Homo sapiens: one gene and its partners. The protein of the gene in region 3 interacts with the protein of the main gene of each other region in a pairwise test. Each region holds a gene or a part of one and is shown on either strand. Other genes may lie near its edges.

Region 1 (7,974 bases), on a different chromosome or scaffold from region 3:
GGGTGATGGTCAGGGTAGCCACTTGAGCGGCCAACCATCTCAGTTTGTTGGGAAACCGGCAGGGCTGGGACAAGGAGTTTTCAGTGCTTAAACTGGGAAAGTTCCAGGCCAACTGGGATGAGCTGGTCACCTTAGTGACCACAGATGTGTACTTGTGGATGTCCCCTGAAAAGAATCCCATTCTACATCCCCCAATCAAAGGGGTCAGGATCTAGAACCGTTTTTAGACCTAGATAAGGATTCCAAAAGGTGGGGGCAGAGAAGTATTGGGGAACGGGCTAGGAATAGCTAGCAGCATCTTAGAAGGAGCCCAGACTTGGCAAAGAGAAAAAGAATATGTGGCACTTCTCTGAAAAATTATTCCTGTCCTCTAAATATTCCTGCCATTCCTCATACCCCAATGGCCAACCTCCAAACTTCCCTGACTGAGTGCTTGCTCCTGGCTCCTTTTCACGTCAGGTGGCCTTTGCAGGGAGGATCAGATGGTCAGGGGGCAAGGTAAGTCTCAGACTCCCAGGGCCCCTACACCACTGTCCACTCCTTGTGTGCCTGTCTCATACTCACTGGACCAAATACAAGACAGGCAGGAAAACTTCCTTTTCAAACCCCACAGATTCATTTTCCCCTTCAGAGCCATTTCCTCCTCAGAGGCTTTTATAAGCCTCAGAGAATGGATCCCATTCCTACCCCTCATCCAAGCTCCCATACCTCTCCTTCCATTTTCTCCTTTATTTCCAGAGTGGTTCTATGGGTTGGCCTGTGGAACCAGGGCACCTGGGCTGAGGAGGGCAGGTCAAGATGCCACTGAAGGCTGGCACTGCCCAGCCTGGCTTGACCCAGCAGGGAACTAGGTGGCTTCAGTACAACTCAGGCATGAAGAACCACCAGGGGAAGCACACTTAAGTCATCATCTAATGGCTTCCCAGTGTATTTCACAATAACAGCTATTGGCAACAAGTAAGCAATGCTGGCACATGGGTACATGCCAACTTGCAAGCACACAATAGTCCTTAACAGGGACCATCACCACCCTCATAATCCCTCAGTTTGGAGGAGCCTGGGCCTGCCCCAAGTGTATAGTAATCCTACCCAGCCAGATCCAAACTCTAGTCAAAGAAGGGTCCCCAAATGTCCCAGAACACTGACCTCTGGAGGGTGGGTGGGGGGTGGAAAGGGACAGGGAAGGGCAGCAGGTTGTAGGGTCTGCTGTCAAAGGTCCCATTCCGGACCGTCCTTCTCCATCCCACCCCCCGGGTCTCCATTGCCGCGGCCCTGCCCCACCACTTTCAGCTGAGGGGTAGTTCGGAGCTCCATGGTCCCTTCCCTAGAGCGGCCGCCCCCTCGGGCCTCCCCAGAGCCTTCGAAGAGCCGCGTGAGGAAACGGGGACCTGCCCGGGGCAGCAGATCTCCAGCGGTGAAGACGTAGAGCACCGGGTTGACGCTAGAACTGAAGAAGGCCAAGGCCGTAGTTCCCGCTCGCGCCGCCTGGCCGGCTCCGCCCAGCTTCGCCAAGGCCCCTTCCGGTGGAGCCAGCGCTGCGACCGCCTGCAGAAGGTTGACTGCGTGGTAGGGGGCCCAGAGCAAGCCGAAGGCAAGCACGATGGCGCTCACCAGCCGGCCCACCCGCGCCCCGTGCCGCCCGGAGCCCCAGCGGGCGCCCCGCAGCCGTGCCAGCGTCACGCTGTAGCAGCCGAGCATCAGCCCGAAAGGAAGCACGAAAGCGGTCAGAGTCTCCAGGCTCAGGTGGGCGGCGGCGTGGACCGGCGACGGGTGGCACAGCTGGCATACGCGGTCCCTCCACAGGTGGCGGTAGACGGCGGCCGGGACGGCGAGCAACAGGGCGGCCAGCCAGACCGCCAGCAGCAGGCGGCGGGCCAGGGCCGGGCTGCGCAGCCGAGGCGCCAGGAAGGGGCGGGTGACTGCGAGGCAGCGCTGCAGGCTGAGCAGGCCGGTGAGCAGCACGCTGGCGTACATGCTGAGCGCGCACACGTAGTACACCGCCTTGCAGCCCGCCTGGCCCAGCGGCCAGGCCTGCCGGGTCAGGAAGGCCACAAAGAGCGGCGTGAGCAGCAGCACCGCGCCGTCGGCCAGCGCCAGGTGCAGCACAAGCGTGGCCGCCAGCGGTCGCCCCCGTGCAGGCCGCCAGCCCGCCAAGCTCCACACCACGAAGCCGTTGCCAGGCAGCCCCAGCAGCGCCGCCAGCAGCAGGAAGGCTGTGCCTGTGGCCCGCGAAGTCTTCCAGCTCAGCAGTGTCTCGTTCCCTGGGGGACGGTAGCAGACCGACATCCTTCTGGGCCTACAGGTGGGTGGAAGGCGCCACAGAGGGCGTTCAGGGGTGGGGCAAAACCCCACCTGTGATGCCCGATGAGAAGGTGCCATGCCTCCTCCTTACTTCCCTGCAGCCTGCCTCTTTTCTGCCTGGGAGTCCTGACTTCCACGAGGACCCAGACCCCACCTCAAACACAACTCCTTCTTGGAACCCAGATCCCCTGCTCCCAGTCAGTTGACCTGCCCCACTCCTGGCCTCCTTCCCAGAGCTCAGTGGTAAACAGGCATAAAGTCATCACCCCAGGCTGTCACTATCTCTACCACCACTCCTCTAGTCTGGCCCCTCCTTCTTTGTCCAGCCCCATTCTAGCACATCTGGGCAAAACTGGATGGTGGGGTGTAAAGGGACGTGCACAGATCTACTTACCAAGCTGGGAGCAAGCAGGATTGGGGGCCTGGAGAAGCTGAAAGGTTAAGCAGCAGTAGGCGAGGTGCCTACTCCTGTCCTGTGCCTATCACATTTGCAGAGGGTAAGACAAGAATGGGGAGGGACAAGATGAGGCTCATCCTGGGCCTCTCCTGGGGCCCCTCCCTCACCCTGCTCCTTCCCATCACCAACGCACCCAGGCGTCCAGGCATGTGAGAGCCTGCCTTGCCAGGAAACAGCACAAGCTGAAGTGGGGCAGTAAGATTCCCTGGTGGTGGAAGGAAATAGGAGGACTCTGCTGAATCCTGGTCCTGCTTCTGTTCTCATCCCTCCCCCAGCTCTGGCCCCAATCCTCCCAGCCCACCTTCTGCAGTGTGTATGTTGCCTGGTCTCTCTGGCCTGCAGAGGTGACCCAAACAACTCAGTCCCCCACCTGCCTTATCCTTGCCTGTTTCCAGTCTCCTGGTCCGGCTGAGCCCCTGGCCTCCTACCTCCTCCCACCTCTTGCCTCAGGCCCTGCCCCAGTCACTCCACCCTCAGGGCTCTCACCGGGCTGTCAATGACAGCTTTTCCATGTAAGGCATGGTGCTAGGTTCCAGGAGGAACAGGGGATGCATGGAGGCATAATGGTTAGGGAGTCATGACACACAACCATGAAGAGGCCCCATTACCAGGCTGCACCAGGATACAAGACAAGAAAGGAAAGGATGAGTAGGGACATACTAAGAAGCAGCCCTCTCCTCTTGGAAAAGTCAAGCAAAACTTGGAAATGAAGAGATTTGAGGGGGGCCTGGCAGATGGATAGAGCTGGGGGAAGGGAAAAGAAAGGCCTCTGCTCAAGTAACAGCCAGAACTTGAGGTTGCTTGGGGAGGGCACCAGGAGCACTGTCTTAGTTTGGGTTCTTCCAAAGCAGAGCTTGAGCTAAGGGCTTGGGTACAGGTGATCCTGTATTCTTGAGCTAAGGGCTTGGGTACAGGTGATCCTGTATTTGGGAGGTTAACTCAGGAAGTGAGGGCATAAGGTAAAACAAGAGAGAGGAAAGCCATTAAGAGTATGTTAAGTCCCTTCAGTAGGCCTTGGGAACCTCTGAGAAAAGTATAGATTGCCCAAGACAAAAGACTGGCAGGGTGATCAGTCCAAAGCATTTATTAGGAGAATGTACTTAATGAGTGGGCTACAGCGTATCCTCACAACAGACAGTGAGAGAGAGTTGTTCTACCTGGGTATATCCAAAACAAGGGGGTCAGGGTATGGAGTTTACGAGGGTTCAAGGTATTTGGTTCAGGGCCAGGGCCAGTTTTTTTCAGTGTTTTGGGCAACAACCTGAATACCTTTTCAAGGCTCTGGCTTGGGCTCAAGCCTGCAGGGGAAATGCAACTGGCCAGGTCACAGGGCAATCAAGTTACTCTGTGTTTCTTTGTCAGGACACAGAAAAAAAGTGGGGAAGCTGGGGGACCCTACAAGGATCCTTGGCAGGAAAGCAGGGATTGTGTTCATTTGAGGGTTTCACTGTCAGTGAGAGTCTCAGCTTCCATGCAACTGTCCATCACGGCTGCAACTGAAATCAGAGCTGGGACACAGCGCACCAGAAGCTAAAGTCTTGATGCCATCAAAGGACATCCCTGCCCCATTCACATCTCTGTCACGTCCACTAATCGGCAAAAGGAGAAAAGTGAGAGAAGATGACCTAAGTGTGACTGCAGCAGGCAGCTCTGGAAAATGAAGCCAGAGCAGTGAGCCAGCCCCTCCTCCGACCAAGGAGGAAGGAAAGAGCAGGTAAGCAGGAAGGCCAGTGTCCCAGACAGGACCCTAATGATCCTGAATCCATGTATCAGGATCCATCCTCTCCTTACACCCTTCCTGGACACAGTCTCACCTCTCATTTTCCAAAGCCCTGCCATGCTGCCATCCCACTTCCCCACACTCTGCCCCGGGTTCCCTTTTCCTAAAGCTGCAGCTTATGGCTTCTCCAGTAGGTGGCAGCACACACAGAGCCACTCATAAACTGCAGCTTCTCAGAGCCTGAGAGCCAGAAACCGTCCCCAGAAATTCCCTCCATAGAAATAAAAAAACACCAGAAGTCACATTTCATCCTTTTACATGGTTCCCATCTACCCTCACAACACATGTCATCACCAAAGACACACATACAAGCTCCAATGGCTTTTGCCAGGCAATTCTTCCTCCAGGACCCCATCTGGCCCCTCCCTCATCCCTCCCCTTGGACTTTGCCCTTCTTACTGGCCAGGCAGGGGGGCCAGAGTCCAGGCTTGACTCATTCCCACCTTGTCCTGGGCTGAGATCCCAGGTTTGTAACAGAAAACACCACTAAAGCCCCAGCACAGGAGAGAACCACCCAGCCCAGAAGTTCCAGGGAAGGAACTCTCCGGTCCACCATGGAGTACCTCTCAGCTCTGAACCCCAGTGACTTACTCAGGTGACTGCTAACCCTCCGCTCTACCCTCCACCTTTAGGGGATATAGGCAGGGCAACAATACTCCACTCAGCCCCTAGGAGACTAACCAGTACCCCTTCCTCTCCTGCTCCCCACTCCACAGTGGGCTTGTCAAGCTCCTGAGCCACCCGCCCCCACCTGCACTCCATGGTCTCTCCCTCATCCCTAATCGATAAACCTAGATCTCTCCCTCCCTAGCCCTCTAGCCACTCTACCCTCATCATGCCCTTTACACTCACCAAGCCCCTCCTCGCCCCTTCTTGACTTTTCTTCTCAACTACCAGGTCAGTATCTAATATAAGCTCGGAGTTTGGACGGAGGGTCTGGACCTCAGCTCCACCACCCCAGCGACCTTTCCGTGTCTGTGATCACAAGCGGACCATCCGGAAAGGCCTGACAGCTGCCACCCGCCAGGAGCTGCTAGCCAAAGTAAGTAGGCCAAGTTCCTCGGTTCCTATAGCAGGGGTAGCCAAGGGGCTCCACAACAGTGGCAACTTGTGATGATGGAGCAGAGGGCTGAAGTCACACAGCTGCCCCTCCCTCTGAGGGCTAAAAGCAGCGGAGTGGGCCTAATGAGCTCTGGTCAATTTGTTCATTTTCCACCGAGTGAGCTTTTCTATGGGAGCAGGGGTTAGCAGGAGATAGGGAGAGTTCGAGGGACAGAATTCAGAAGCTAGTATGGAAAGGTGATTTGTGTGACAAATCAAGTTCAAATTCTGATTCTGCCACTTCCTGCCTGTCAAACCTTGGGAAGTTGTTCAACCTACCAAAACCTCAGTTTCTTCAACTATAAAAAGGCAATAATAATACATCACCTCCTAGGGTTGTTGAAAGGAGTAAGAGGATAATGTAGGTAAAGTCCTCATACCTGGCACAGAGTAAGGACTCAAAAAGGTTAAACACTATTACTGAAAACACTTCTGGAGAACTCTTGAGGGTGTGGGAAGTGAGGTGCAGCATTGTAGATAAGACAGAAGGGTGGACTTCGTGAGAACCTGGCTTGCTTTCCAATTCCAAACCAGAAGTGACTTGGAGGGGAGCAAGGGGAGATGCCAATGACATGGTAGGAGCAAAGAGGAAAAAGGTCAGCCTCTAGCTAGGATCCCCCAAAAACTGAAGAACACGGAGAGCTGCAACCTTTAGGAGGTATCAAAGTGCCGGAAAGTCAAAGTGGGACATCGACCAATGTCTAGAGCCAACTGATGGATGTTGGGCAGCTAAAGAGGGAAGGGGCATGGGATAAGACCTGCCCTTCTTGCTTCTTGCCATTGGGCAGGCATTGGAGACCCTACTGCTGAATGGAGTGCTAACCCTGGTGCTAGAGGAGGATGGAACTGCAGTGGACAGTGAGGACTTCTTCCAGCTGCTGGAGGATGACACGTGCCTGATGGTGTTGCAGTCTGGTCAGAGCTGGAGCCCTACAAGGGTAAGAGGCCTATACTGGGGCTGCTTCCAATGCCTGTCCTTTAGAGCTTTCCCGGGCTTCCTCTCTAGCTTAACCCTGATCCTGGGGACCAGGTGCAGGAGGAGTTGTGGAATTGTCAAGGATGTCACACAGTGGACAGAAAGTCCAAGCGAGGGAGGGTCTGACCCAGTGCTGATGGAGATTAGTGGTGGGTGTCTGGTATGAGGATCTACTGCACTGACAAGGGTGTCCTACAGAGTGGAGTGCTGTCATATGGCCTGGGACGGGAGAGGCCCAAGCACAGCAAGGACATCGCCCGATTCACCTTTGACGTGTACAAGCAAAACCCTCGAGACCTCTTTGGCAGCCTGAATGTCAAAGCCACATTCTACGGGCTCTACTCTATGAGTTGTGACTTTCAAGGACTTGGCCCAAAGAAAGTACTCAGGTCAGAAATCAACATGTCATACTGCCCCATCCCCTACAGTTGGATAGTCCCCATAATTCGTCCTCTTGCACCCACCTACCCCTAGTTAGCTCTTGCTTGTGGAAAGTCCTCATCTCCCAGCTTGATGGCTTCCTCCCAAGTTTTCCAAATCATCTGATTTCCTCTTGTCTCTGCCATTCAGGGAGCTCCTTCGTTGGACCTCCACACTGCTGCAAGGCCTGGGCCATATGTTGCTGGGAATTTCCTCCACCCTTCGTCATGCAGTGGAGGGGGCTGAGCAGTGGCAGCAGAAGGGCCGCCTCCATTCCTACTAAGGGGCTCTGAGCTTCTGCCCCCAGAATCATTCCAACCGACCCACTGCAAAGACTATGACAGCATCAAATTTCAGGACCTGCAGACAGTACAGGCTAGATAACCCACCCAATTTCCCCACTGTCCTCTGATCCCCTCGTGACAGAACCTTTCAGCATAACGCCTCACATCCCAAGTCTATACCCTTACCTGAAGAATGCTGTTCTTTCCTAGCCACCTTTCTGGCCTCCCACTTGCCCTGAAAGGCCAAGATCAAGATGTCCCCCAGGCATCTTGATCCCAGCCTGACTGCTGCTACATCTAATCCCCTACCAATGCCTCCTGTCCCTAAACTCCCCAGCATACTGATGACAGCCCTCTCTGACTTTACCTTGAGATCTGTCTTCATACCCTTCCCCTCAAACTAACAAAAACATTTCCAATAAAAATATCAAATATTTACCACTAAGACTTCTGACTCCAATTTAAACCAGGAAAGGGATGGGGTGGATACCCCATTTTGCCCTCCCCCATCAACACCCAGTCCCAGATCCAAAGCCTCAGTCTTCAAGTATGGAGTTCAATGCCCGCCTCCGCTTGGCCACCGCACCCTGCTGCTGTTCCCAAGCCTCTCGCCGCTTTAGGAAGGTAGTCAAGGCCACATTTCGAGCCACATGGT
Region 2 (3,572 bases), on a different chromosome or scaffold from region 3:
CAGGTGAAAGCACACAAATATAGAAACTGTTTTTGAAGAAGTTGGGGATGTTAACCTTTTAGTTCAAGATGGGGGGTTGTTCCAGAGTGAAGGAAGGTGAGATGCCTCCCGTTCTCATGAGCTAATGATTGTTTCCAAACTGGTTAGAATTCAGTGCTAATTGCATTTTAAAACACCACCTCTGAAATCCTTTTCTCTCTCAGGATCTTGCATCAATGTTTCACATTTTCAATGCAACCTTTGCACTTCACCTTTCTCACTCAACAAATTCTGAATGTCAGATCTACGGGAAGAACTCAGTTCAGATCCTTCCTCTCCCCAGCAGGTTTTGATCTGGTGATGGTGATGTCAATTCCTAGGAAAGGCTGTCCTGCCCTGGTTCTGAGGGGAGAGAGACAATTAAAATCGGTACTTTGGTGACTCTACTCAGGCTTGTCCATTCTAACAGGGAGTCATTAAACAACTTTCCAGTGTCATTCAAAGAACTTATAACAGAATCAATTGATTTTCATCCTCTGCTTTATTAGTTGTGATTTAGGAAATAGAATGGCCCTGTTTACACAGCTGTAACATGTCAGGGCCTGTAGTACATTATTGGCTTGAGGCCTCCGAGTTGCCGTCCATTCTCAGCAGAATCAATCTGAACTTGAAAACATTCCCTCTAGGAAACATGCACATATCTACTAGCATAAAGCACTTCTTGCACAACTGAAAACAGTATTCACTTGAGGTAAGTTGCAAGTTCACCTTCCAAAAATCAGCCCTGACTTGTCATTGCTCTCAGCATGTTCACGATGGGAGCAGAGGGCTACAAATGCCTCTTTAACTAGGTACCCAGCATCGGCGAATGTGCTACACTTTGCTGCTAGTCAGATCTCAGACTCTGCAAGTGGGAGTAGCTGGCTGTTTAACATGCGTTCAGAGCACTGCCAATCTAAAATGGCTGCTCAGTAATACTTTAATTGCAGTTTCATGGAAACAAATTGCTATTTAACTGCAATAAGCACTTCTGTGACTTGGCTGCACTAACAATAGGTGAGTCTTAGTAACAAAGCTATAAGTAACATTAACTTGTAAATGGCCTTTTTCCAATGGCCTCTTGAAGGGGTCATAGGTGGGACAGCACCCAGGATAGAATTCCCTGGTGAAGGGTGAAGGGGTCTTTGGGGTGAAGGGTGATGGGGTTTTTGGATCTCCTCAATTTAAATACAATTAGTTAGGCTACATGGGAACTCTTCACTAGACTCCATATGTAGCTCTTGGGTTCACTGTTTATTATATGATTTATGGGCCCTAAGAAATATTTTATATAAATAGTAGTGCACATTAGAATCTTACTATATTGACATTTAAAGCCCTTTAAGAGCTTCCTTTTAGATGATTAGTTGTTTCAAATATCAGTGTTAATAAGGGCAAAAGAAAGAATTTAAATACAGGTAATATTAAGAGGATGACAATTTCACAGACTTCATTTTGGTGTGTCAGTTTTCTCGTTTTGTATTTTATAAGACACTACAGTCCGGGTTAAACTATTTCCTAATAAATCATGAAGAGCTGAAAATAGTTTCTAGTGGCAAACGATTTGGTTTGGAAAAGCTTCAGGCTCCCCTGCCTTGCGGGATGTGTAAATCTAATTAGACAGTTAGATAGGTAAAAAACATTAAACCCTTTTAGAGGACTATCTTTTTACAAAATTGTTTCATTAACAAGAGTGACAATTTGCATGATTGAGACATTTATATGTACCATAAACATAATTTTTTTTATCAGGAGTTCAGCAGGGCTCAGTAACATTTGCTTTTATTTTTAATTGCACTTGCTTGTAGGGACTGGGGGCCATCTTGCTCTATGACGTGGTTAATATTAAATAAGTCCTTTCTAAAGAACAGTGTCCATCTTGCTAACTAATAACATCACAAATGCAATGGATGAAAGGTGGAATAAACTCATAGATTTTTTTTTTTCCTAAGCAATGTTGAGATTGGGGGAGGAACTGCACACAATCGCTGCTCACATCAGAATAAACCTGAGTGTTTTTAGTAGCTTTCTATCCACACAGAGCATCCCCATTAGAGCCGGGTTTTATTGTTTGAAATGCCTCTGGTTTCAAGAAAGTGTTTTACCTAAAGCAAGACTACTACTTAAATATGTTCTATTGTATATTCATAGCTCCATTAGTCCTTCTCCAATTTAGCACATCAAAGAGAAGGCTTCATCACTTGCATGTGGATTATACTAACATGAGTGACATTTGTAATCTTATAGGTCTGCAACTTAAGAAATGCTTTTAGAAGCTCATTATTAAATACGCAGCAGTGCTTGAGGAACCAGCCATATAATAGTTTATTTAAAGTCCGTAATGACCTTAGCCCTCCACATCATTAAATGCGACAATATATTATTTACTAAAGTTATTAACCACCTCCTTTGAATTTGTACATATCAGGGACATAAGTGCTTATGCCAAAAAGAATATAGAAAATGCCTGCAATCTCATTAACCCATTTCCCCCTTTACCATCGCAGTCTAACTTCCTTCAGAAAGTTCCTTAAAGGAAAAAAAACAAATATAAGAACCAGAACTAGTTTGAAGAAATTCCCCAAGGATCTAATTCAAACAGACATCTAATTCAAACATATATATGTGATTTCTTCATATTATTTTCTTGCATTTTATTTTTATAAGGTTCTAACAAAACTATTCACCTCAACTCTATGCCTTTACAATCTCCTCTAGGAGGTTTGAAGTTCAACTGATTTTTTTTTTCCCCTGCCCTGGAATCTCTGAAAACAGGAAGTGAGCACAGAAGTTCTCAAAGGGAAGCTGACTGGTAGTTGAGATGTGCTGAGCTACACCTCTCTACATGGCTCCACGGCTATTCTCAGAGGGAGGGTCTACATCAGGCGCTTTTCTGGAACAAAATAAAATGCCATCTTAAAAAAGAAAATTTAAAATAGTAGCGTTCACACACCTGGTTTTATTAGCCTGTGATGGAAGTTGTAGTTGAAATTTGCTCACATCTAAGGAAGCTGGCAGTACAACCTCAGCCTCCAGGCCTATTTGGTTTTCCTCCTTCCAGCACTAGCTGTTATACTGCATGCTTTCCGGAGGGCAGCTCTGCGGGCAGTGCAGGCACTGTGGTGGACACTCTGCTGCCTGCAACCAGCAACTCAGTATCTCAAGACTAAGACTAAATGAAGTCAGAATCTTCCCCCAAAATACATACGGAAACGCAGTCAGTAAAGAAGTGTAGGAGCAAAACAAAATAAACACCTTACAGCCAACCACACGAGCCTAAGGGTCACCAGGAAATGGCTACTTCACCAATCAAAGATCACCATAAAAAAAGAGCTCTGGGTCCCTACAACTAAGTGAGCTTCAAAATATGTACAGGTATGACTTAGAAATTGTGACTTCCTTCAAAAGCTATAAACTCAATAAGAGAACAGGATGGTTGTGCCGTATTTTTTTTTATACATACTTTTCATCAATACCCAAGGCTTTGTTTGCTATTGAGAAAAAGAATAAACAAAATAGTGGACACTCAAGTATTTATAAACACAAAAGACTTA
Region 3 (7,519 bases):
CAGCCTCCTGCAGATTCACTTCTAAGCCCACCTATGTTGCTTTTGGCCAGAAACATCAGTTCCTTGTCATGGGGGCCTCCGCACAGGGCTGCTCACAACAGGGGAGCTGCTTCTCCCAGGAGGTGGCGGAGCAGCAGCAGCTGCAGTCTTTGGTGACCAGATTGTGAAAGTGACACTCCGTCTCTTTTGCTGTGTCAGAAGTCAGTCACCAGGCATGGTCCACACTCAAGGGGTAGGCATTACACAAGGAAATGAACTGGGTTTTGCTTTTCTTGTTGAGTTACGAGAGTTCTTTTTTGTTTTGTTTTGAGACAGGGTCTCATTCTGTTGCCCAGGCTGAGTGCAGTGGTGCGATCACAGCTCAATCCAGCCTGGACCTCTTGGGCTCAAGCAATCTTCCCACCTCAGCCTTCCCGGTAGCTGGAAATACAGGCGCACACCAACACGCCCCGCTAATTTTTTATTTTTTTGTAGAGACAGGTTTCACTATGTTTCCCAGGCTGGTCTCAAACTCCTGGCCTCAAGTGATCCTCCAACCTCTGCCTCCCACAGTGCTAAGAGTACAGGTGTGAACCATCCCATCACGCCTGGCCAAGAGAGTTATTTATTTATTTATTTATTGAGACAGAGTCTTGCTCTGTCTACCAGCCTGCAGTGCCATAACACAATCTCAGCTCACAGCAACCTCCGCCTCCCAGGGTCAAGCAATTCTCCTGCCTCAGCCTCCCAAGTAGCTCGGATTACAGGCACCTGCCACCAGGCCCGGCTAATTTTATATTTTTAGTAGAGACAGGGTTTCTCCATGTTGGTCAGGCTGGTCTCAAACTCCCAACCTCAGGTGATCCACCCGCCTCAGCCTCCCAAAGTGCTGCGATGACAGGCATGAGCCACCTCGTCCGGCCCAGCATAATTTTTTTTTTCTTTTTTTAAGATGGAGTCTTGTTCTGTCACCCAGGCTGGAGTGCAAGGGCACGATCTCAGCTCACTGCAACCTCTGCCTCCCGGGTTCAAGGGATTCTCCTGCCTCAGCCTCCCGAGTAGCTGGGATTACAGGTGCATGCCACCACACCCAGCTAATTTTTTGTATTTTTAGTATAGACAGGGTTTCGCCATGTCGGCCAGTCTGGTCTCGAACTCCTGACCTCAGGCGATACACCCACCGCAGCTTCCTAAAGTGCTGGGATGACAGGCGCGAGCCACTGCGCCCAGTCTCAGCATGTTTTTAATGTGCAAAATAAAATACAAGGAAATAAAAATATAAAAAACTATACTGAAATAAATTATCAAAATATTGTAGGCCAGGCCGGGCGCAGTGGCTCACACCTGTAATCCCAGCACTTTAGGAAGCTGCGGTGGGTGTATCGCCTGAGGTCAGGAGTTCGAGACCAGACTGGCCAACATGGCGAAACCCTGTCTATACTAAGAATACAAAAAATTAGCTGGGTGTGGTGGCGAGCACCTGTAATCCCAGCTACTCGGGAGGCTGAGGCAGGAGAATTGCTTGAACCCAGGAGGTGGGGGTTGCAGTGAGCTGAGATCATGCCCTTGCACTCCAGCCTGGGCAACAGAGTAAGACGATGTCTCACCAACAAACAAACAAAATATTTTAGGCAGCGGGGCGTGGTGGCTCACACCCGTAATCCCATCACTTTGGGAGGCCAAGGCGGGTTGATCACAAGGTCAAGAGATCGAGACCATCCTGGCCAACATGGTGAAACCCCATCTCTACTAAAAAACAAAAATTAGCCGGGTGTGGTGGCGCGTGCCTGTAATCTCAGCTACTCAGGAGGCTGAGGCAGGAGAATCGCTTGAATTGGGAGGCGGAGGTTGCAGTGAGCCAGGATTACACCACTGCACTCCAGCCTGGCAACAGAGTGAGACTCCATCTCAAAAACAAAAACAAAAACAAAAACAAAATATTTTAGGCCAAGTGCGGTGGCTCAGGCCTGTTTTCCTAGTTACTGGGGAGGCTGAGGCAGGAGGATCGCTTGAGGCTGGGAGGTGAAGGCTGCAGTTGAGCTATGACTGCACCACTGCACTCCAGCCCAGGTGACAGAACGAGACCCTGTTGCTAAAAAAACAAAAATAAAACATTAAAAAATGTACGATATAGTGGCCGGGCGCGGTGGCTCATGCCTGTAATCCCAGCACTTTGGGAGGCTGAGGCGGGCAGATCACAAGGTCAGGAGATCGAGACCATCCTGGCTAACATGGTGAAACCCCGTCTCTACTAAAAATACAAAAAAAAAAAAAAATTAGCCAGGCGTGGTGGCAGGCGCCTATAGTCCCAGCTGGAGGCTGAGGCAGGAGGATGGCGTGAACCCGGGAGGCGGAGCTTGCAGTGAGCCGAGATCGCGCCACTGCACTCCAACCTGGGTGACAGAGTGAGACTTCGTCTCAAAAAAAAAACAGAGTACGCTATAGTAATATCTGCTTTTTCCTTTTTGCAATAGCTTTATTGGGATACAATTGACATACTATACACTTCACTCATATATTTTTTGTTTATTTACTATTTTTTTTCAAGAGACAGGGTCTTGCTATATTGCCCTGGCTAGTCTCAAACTCCTGGGCTTATGTGATCCTCCTGCCTCAGCTTCCCAAATTGTTGGGATAATAGGCCTGAGCAAGAGTCCAGCCTCTAAAAAGAAAGAAAGTCACTTCTTTATACCATAGTACTGCAAATTCTAGTCAGAGCAACTAGACAAGAAAATAAAATAAAAGGCATTCAGATTGGAAAGAAAGAACTGAAACCGTCTCTATTCCCATATGACATGATGTTTTTTCTTTTCTTTTTTTTTTTTTTTTTGAGACAGAGTCTTGCTCTGTTGCCCAGGCTGGAGTGCAGTGGCATGCTCTCGGCTCATTGTGAGCTCCACCTCCTGGGTTCAAGCCATTCTCCTGCCTCAGCCTCCTGAGTAGCTGGGATTACAGGCATGCACCACCATGTCCAGCTAATTTTTGTATTTTTAGTAGAGACGGGGTTTCACCACGTTGACCAGGCTGGTCTTGAACTCCTGACCTCGTGATCCGCTCGCCTCGGGCTCCCAAAGTGCTGGGATTACAGACATGAGCCAGTGTGCCCCGCTCCATATGACACAATCTTATACAAAGAAATTCCCAAGGAATTAATTAAAAACTATTAGAACTAATAAATGCATTTGGAAGGCTTGCAGGATACAAGATCAATACACAAAGCTCAATTGTTGGCCAGGCGTGGTGGCTCACGCCTGTAATCCCAGCCCTTTGGGAGGCCAAGGCGGGTGGATCACCTGAGGCCACGAGTTTGAGACCAGCCTGGCCAACATGGCGAAACCCCGTCTCTACTAAAAATAAAAAAAAACACCAGCCAGGTGTGGTGGCAAGCTCCTGTAATTCCATCTACTCGGGAGCCTGAGGCAGGATAACTGCTTGAACCTGGGAGGCGGAGGCTGCAGTGAGCAGAGATATGCCATTATTGCACTCCAGCCTGGGCAACAAGAGCGACACTCTGTCTGAAAACAAACAAACCTCAATTGTCTGTTATACACTTGCAATGGACAATTCAAATAAGAAAACAATTCCATTCACAATAGCAGCAAAAAGAACAGGCTTTTTCAAGACTCATTAAGTAAGTTCTAGCAGTGGGAGACCTAACCATTTCAAATAGTAGCATGCTGTGCTATCTACCCAAATATTACCGTACCTGTGAATTCTGTTGGTGACAAAGTCACAGGCCCTGCAACTATGAATGTGGCTTCTTCCTTATATCCGCAATTGAATGAATTAGAGGAATGCAGTCACATCAGAGGCCATTTGAGAATAAAGGTCGGATTTTTCCCCATTCAAATTCACAGACCAGGCTCACATCTGTAATCCCAGCACCTTGGGAAGCCAAGGCAGGAGGATTTCTTGATCCCAGGAGTTTGAGACCAGCATGGGCAACATAGGGAGGCCCCATCTCTACAAAAAATTAAAATATTAGCTGGTTGTGGTGGCGCGGGTCTGTAGTCCCGCCTACTCGTCCTGGCCGCAGAGTCAGCGTCTCCGGAGCGCCTCCTTCTCCCGCCCTGGGGCTCACGTGGGAATTTCACCCTCCATTGGAGGGGGCTCAGACCAGGGCTTCTAGACCTCCTTTTGGTCCGTGAATTTATTTTTGAGACAGAGTCTTGCTCTATTGCTCAGGCTGGAGTGCAGCGGTGCAGTCACAGCTCACTGCAGCCTCAATCTCCTGGGCTCACGCGATCCTCCTGCCTCAGCCTCCCGAGTGGGCCTTCCTCCGTGGGAAAGCGTTAAAACGATAGTTAACGGTTGCGTCGGTGTAAAGACGAATGCAATTCGAGAAGGATTCATTATTATTTTGTTTTTTCTTCTGATTTTTAACAGAAATTGGCGTTGAACATTTCCCCCGTGAGCGCCGGGCCACGGGGGTCCGGGGCGGCGGGGGGCTCCGGGGCGGCGGGGGGCTCCCGGGCGGGCGGGGGCGGGTCTCGGGCTGGCACCGCCCTCCGCGCCCGCTCCTCGCGCTCACAGCGGCCCGCGGGCCGGGCGTCATGGGCGGCCTCTTCTGGCGCTCCGCGCTGCGGGGGCTGCGCTGCGGCCCGCGGGCCCCGGGCCCGAGCCTGCTAGTGCGCCACGGCTCGGGTGAGTGGGGCCGCGCGCCCCGGCGGGGACGCGGAGGGGAGGAAGGGGCGCGCGCCGCTCGGCCTTTGTGCGCGCACGTGCGGGCTGGGGTCCGACTCCCCCAGAGGCCTCGGGGCGCGGGCTGCGGGGTCCGTCCGAGTTGGGGAAGGCGCCGGCTCGCACCCGCACGCCCCTCCAGTGCCCGTCCGGCTCTGCGGCTCCTTCTCGCCTCCCCAGGCCCCAGGCTGCAGGCGCCCGGCGAGTTGGCAGCCTGGGCGGGTCCGGGGCGACCGAGGGCCCGGGAGCGCAAGGAAGGCAGAGGCCGGCTGCAGCACTGGGCGGGGAGGGGGTCTCCCGGCCGGGGTGGGGGTGGGGGTGTGGGGGGGTGAGGGAGTCGGGGGGTGGGGGTGGGGGTGTGGGGGGGTGAGGGAGTCGGGGGGTGGGGGTGGGGGGAGCCGCTCCGCTGGGGCGTTCGCTGAAGGCCAAGTTAGGCCAGAATCTGACTGGGACGTCAGGCCCCAAGTCCCCGGCCCCGCCGCTGCCCGGCCCCCCCAGCTGCCACCTCACAGGACGATCCATGTCCCAGGGCTCCCTCCATCGGCTCTGAAAAGTGAGCCGCCGCCTGCAATGCCCGCACCAGCCGCAGCAGAGCCCCAGGCTACACAAGGCGCCCTGCAAACTGGGTTTTGGGGGAACAAACCAACCAGGGGGTCTTCCTCCCGTGGGCTTCAGCCGCCTGCTGGGGTTAACTTTTCCTCCTGGCCTGGCGGAGCCCCTTTGGCTCTGTCCAGATTCTGTGGGACATACAGGGTCTGGGCTCCTCTGGAAACCAGGGACCCGATGCCGGAGGGTAGCTTGGCTCTGGAGCAGCCTGGGACTATAGGAAGGTGAGGACGTCTTCTGTTTCCCTGGCAGCGTCCCCTCCAGAGGAGGACGGCTGGGGCGGAGCTCAGCGCTGACCCTGGGTCTGGAAGCGACAGGCCTTGAAACTCCACAGCAGCACAGGCCCCGTCTCCTGGCTCGGACAGAACCCTGCTACCTTCCCTCTTCAATCTTCAGGCCCCTTTTTGTCCGTGTTTCCAGGGCTCACCTGGTGGGGAAAGTGTGTTTCTCCCTGGTTCCCTGCCACTCATTCACCTCAGACACAGGGTGGGCTCTGGGTTCTTCCTCATGTGGAAAGTCGGGGCTTCAGACCATGTCTGTCGTCATCCAGAAGGGATGGAGTCAAAAGTGAGGCTGGAGTTTTGCAGGATCTCCAGACTTCCCTGAGGCCACTGAGCTGGGCTGTGCCTCTGTGGACCTCAGGGTGGTCGCTGAGCTGGGCTGTCCCTCCCTGGACCTTGAGGTGGTCCCTGAGCTGGCTCTGCCTCTATGGACCTTGCGGTGGTGGTCCCTGAGCTGGGCAGTGCCTCCCTGAACCTCGGGGCGATCTCAGGCAGCCTCTGCCTCTGCTGGGAGGAGCCATGGCCCCTGGGAGAGGCTAGAAGCCCTGGGGACACATTGCCTTGGGTGTCCCTGACAGGGACTATCATGGGGGTGTTTGTGGCTGTGGGCACCATCCCTGTCCCTTCCAGAGTGCCCTGCATAGAGGCAGACACCCTGAAGCCTGGTGACCCCTGGGCTCTGGCTGGGAAACCCGGGTCGTGGGGACGTGAAAGGGTGAGGTGGCAGTGCCTCTGACCTCTTGCCTTTTGAAGGAGGGCCCTCCTGGACCCGGGAGCGGACCCTGGTGGCGGTGAAGCCCGATGGCGTGCAACGGCGGCTCGTTGGGGACGTGATCCAGCGCTTTGAGAGGCGGGGCTTCACGCTGGTGGGGATGAAGATGCTGCAGGTAGTGGGACTCTGGGCTTGTGGGTGTCCCTGTGGGGATGGGGTTGGGGGATCCTTCTCGGCCTTTCACATCCCAGCCAGCGCCGGGGCAGGGCCTGGCTTTGGCAGTTGAAGGGGCAGGAGGGATCTATTCTGCGGTGGGGGTGCTGCCCATGCTGGTGTTATCTGCAAGGTGCCTGAGGTCAGGGCATCACAGCTGCTGTGCTAGTGCCCACGTTTACTGTCTGCGGCTCCTCCTTACCTCAATGCCACCCAGGCACCAGAGAGCGTCCTTGCCGAGCACTACCAGGACCTGCGGAGGAAGCCCTTCTACCCTGCCCTCATCCGCTACATGAGCTCTGGGCCTGTGGTGGCCATGGTACGGCAGGGCAGGGGTGGTGGAAGGGCCTGTGGGTAAAGGGCGTGTGGGTGTGTCTTTCCCCCCAGCAAAGGGAGGGGCCCTGGATTGAGCCCAGGGGCCCTTGGTGTTCCCCACTTCTCCCCAACCATTATCTCTCGCTGCAGGTCTGGGAAGGGTACAATGTCGTCCGCGCCTCGAGGGCCATGATTGGACACACCGACTCGGCTGAGGCTGCCCCAGGAACCATAAGGGGTGACTTCAGCGTCCACATCAGCAGGTACGGGGGTCCTGATACACCAGGCTGCTGCTGGGGGCAAGGAGGGCCATCACTTGGGGTGGTGGCAGATCCACGAGACCTGGCTGTCTTGCTGTGCTAGGATGAAGCCAGGTCGGACATGACAGCTCACACTGGTGAGAGCCGTGTTCTCCCAGGGCACACAGGGCAATGAGGTGTTCCCTTTGTGTTGTGTGTACCGTGCCATCGTTGCCTGTTACCTGACACCCCAAGGGGTTGGCACGGGGCAACTTGGGGGGAAATGAGGCTCCCAAAAGCTGGGGCCTGGGCGGGTCCACGAGGCTGTAAGAGGCCGAGGCCAGGCTGGAACCCGGTTTCCCAGCTCCACTGTTACTCCTTCCCTGTCTGCAGTCACAGGCTTGCTCCCCTAGACAGAGGGCAACGGGAGCAGCAGATGGTCCCTGGGATTCCTCAGGGTGCACATGAAGCCTGAGCCTCACATTGCTCCTGTC

The links. The genes of interacting proteins can lie anywhere in the genome.
Region 1: the proteins of NME4 (region 3) and CIDEB interact in binary tests that used the Homo sapiens proteins (3 or more experiments, as listed by UniProt).
Region 2: the proteins of NME4 (region 3) and LMO4 interact in binary tests that used the Homo sapiens proteins (3 or more experiments, as listed by UniProt).

What each region holds. Positions count from the first base shown.
Region 1 is NC_000014.9:24,304,977-24,312,950, reverse strand, and holds CIDEB (lipid transferase CIDEB), read left to right. Parts: upstream 1-4,973; 5' UTR 4,974-5,092; coding exon 5,093-5,133; exon of another isoform or gene 5,134-5,435; coding exon 5,436-5,580; exon of another isoform or gene 5,581-6,427; coding exon 6,428-6,577; exon of another isoform or gene 6,578-6,813; coding exon 6,814-7,004; exon of another isoform or gene 7,005-7,185; coding exon 7,186-7,318; 3' UTR 7,319-7,764; downstream 7,765-7,974. Other genes in the region: LTB4R2 (leukotriene B4 receptor 2), read right to left, coding at 1,210-2,286; NOP9 (nucleolar protein 9), read right to left, coding at 7,856-7,974. UniProt on the Homo sapiens protein: Lipid transferase specifically expressed in hepatocytes, which promotes unilocular lipid droplet formation by mediating lipid droplet fusion. Lipid droplet fusion promotes their enlargement, restricting lipolysis and favoring lipid storage.
Region 2 is NC_000001.11:87,345,853-87,349,424, reverse strand, and holds the end of LMO4 (LIM domain transcription factor LMO4), read right to left. Parts: 3' UTR 502-3,572; downstream 1-501. UniProt on the Homo sapiens protein: Transcription cofactor. Plays a role in establishing motor neuron identity, in concert with MNX1, acting, at least in part, to disrupt LDB1-LHX3 complexes thereby negatively modulating interneuron genes in motor neurons.
Region 3 is NC_000016.10:392,691-400,209, forward strand, and holds the start of NME4 (nucleoside diphosphate kinase, mitochondrial isoform a precursor), read left to right. Parts: upstream 1-4,508; 5' UTR 4,509-4,532; coding exon 4,533-4,623; intron 4,624-5,051; exon of another isoform or gene 5,052-5,489; intron 5,490-5,517; exon of another isoform or gene 5,518-5,704; intron 5,705-6,299; coding exon 6,300-6,433; intron 6,434-6,688; coding exon 6,689-6,790; intron 6,791-6,936; coding exon 6,937-7,049; intron 7,050-7,418; coding exon of another isoform or gene 7,419-7,500; exon of another isoform or gene 7,501-7,519.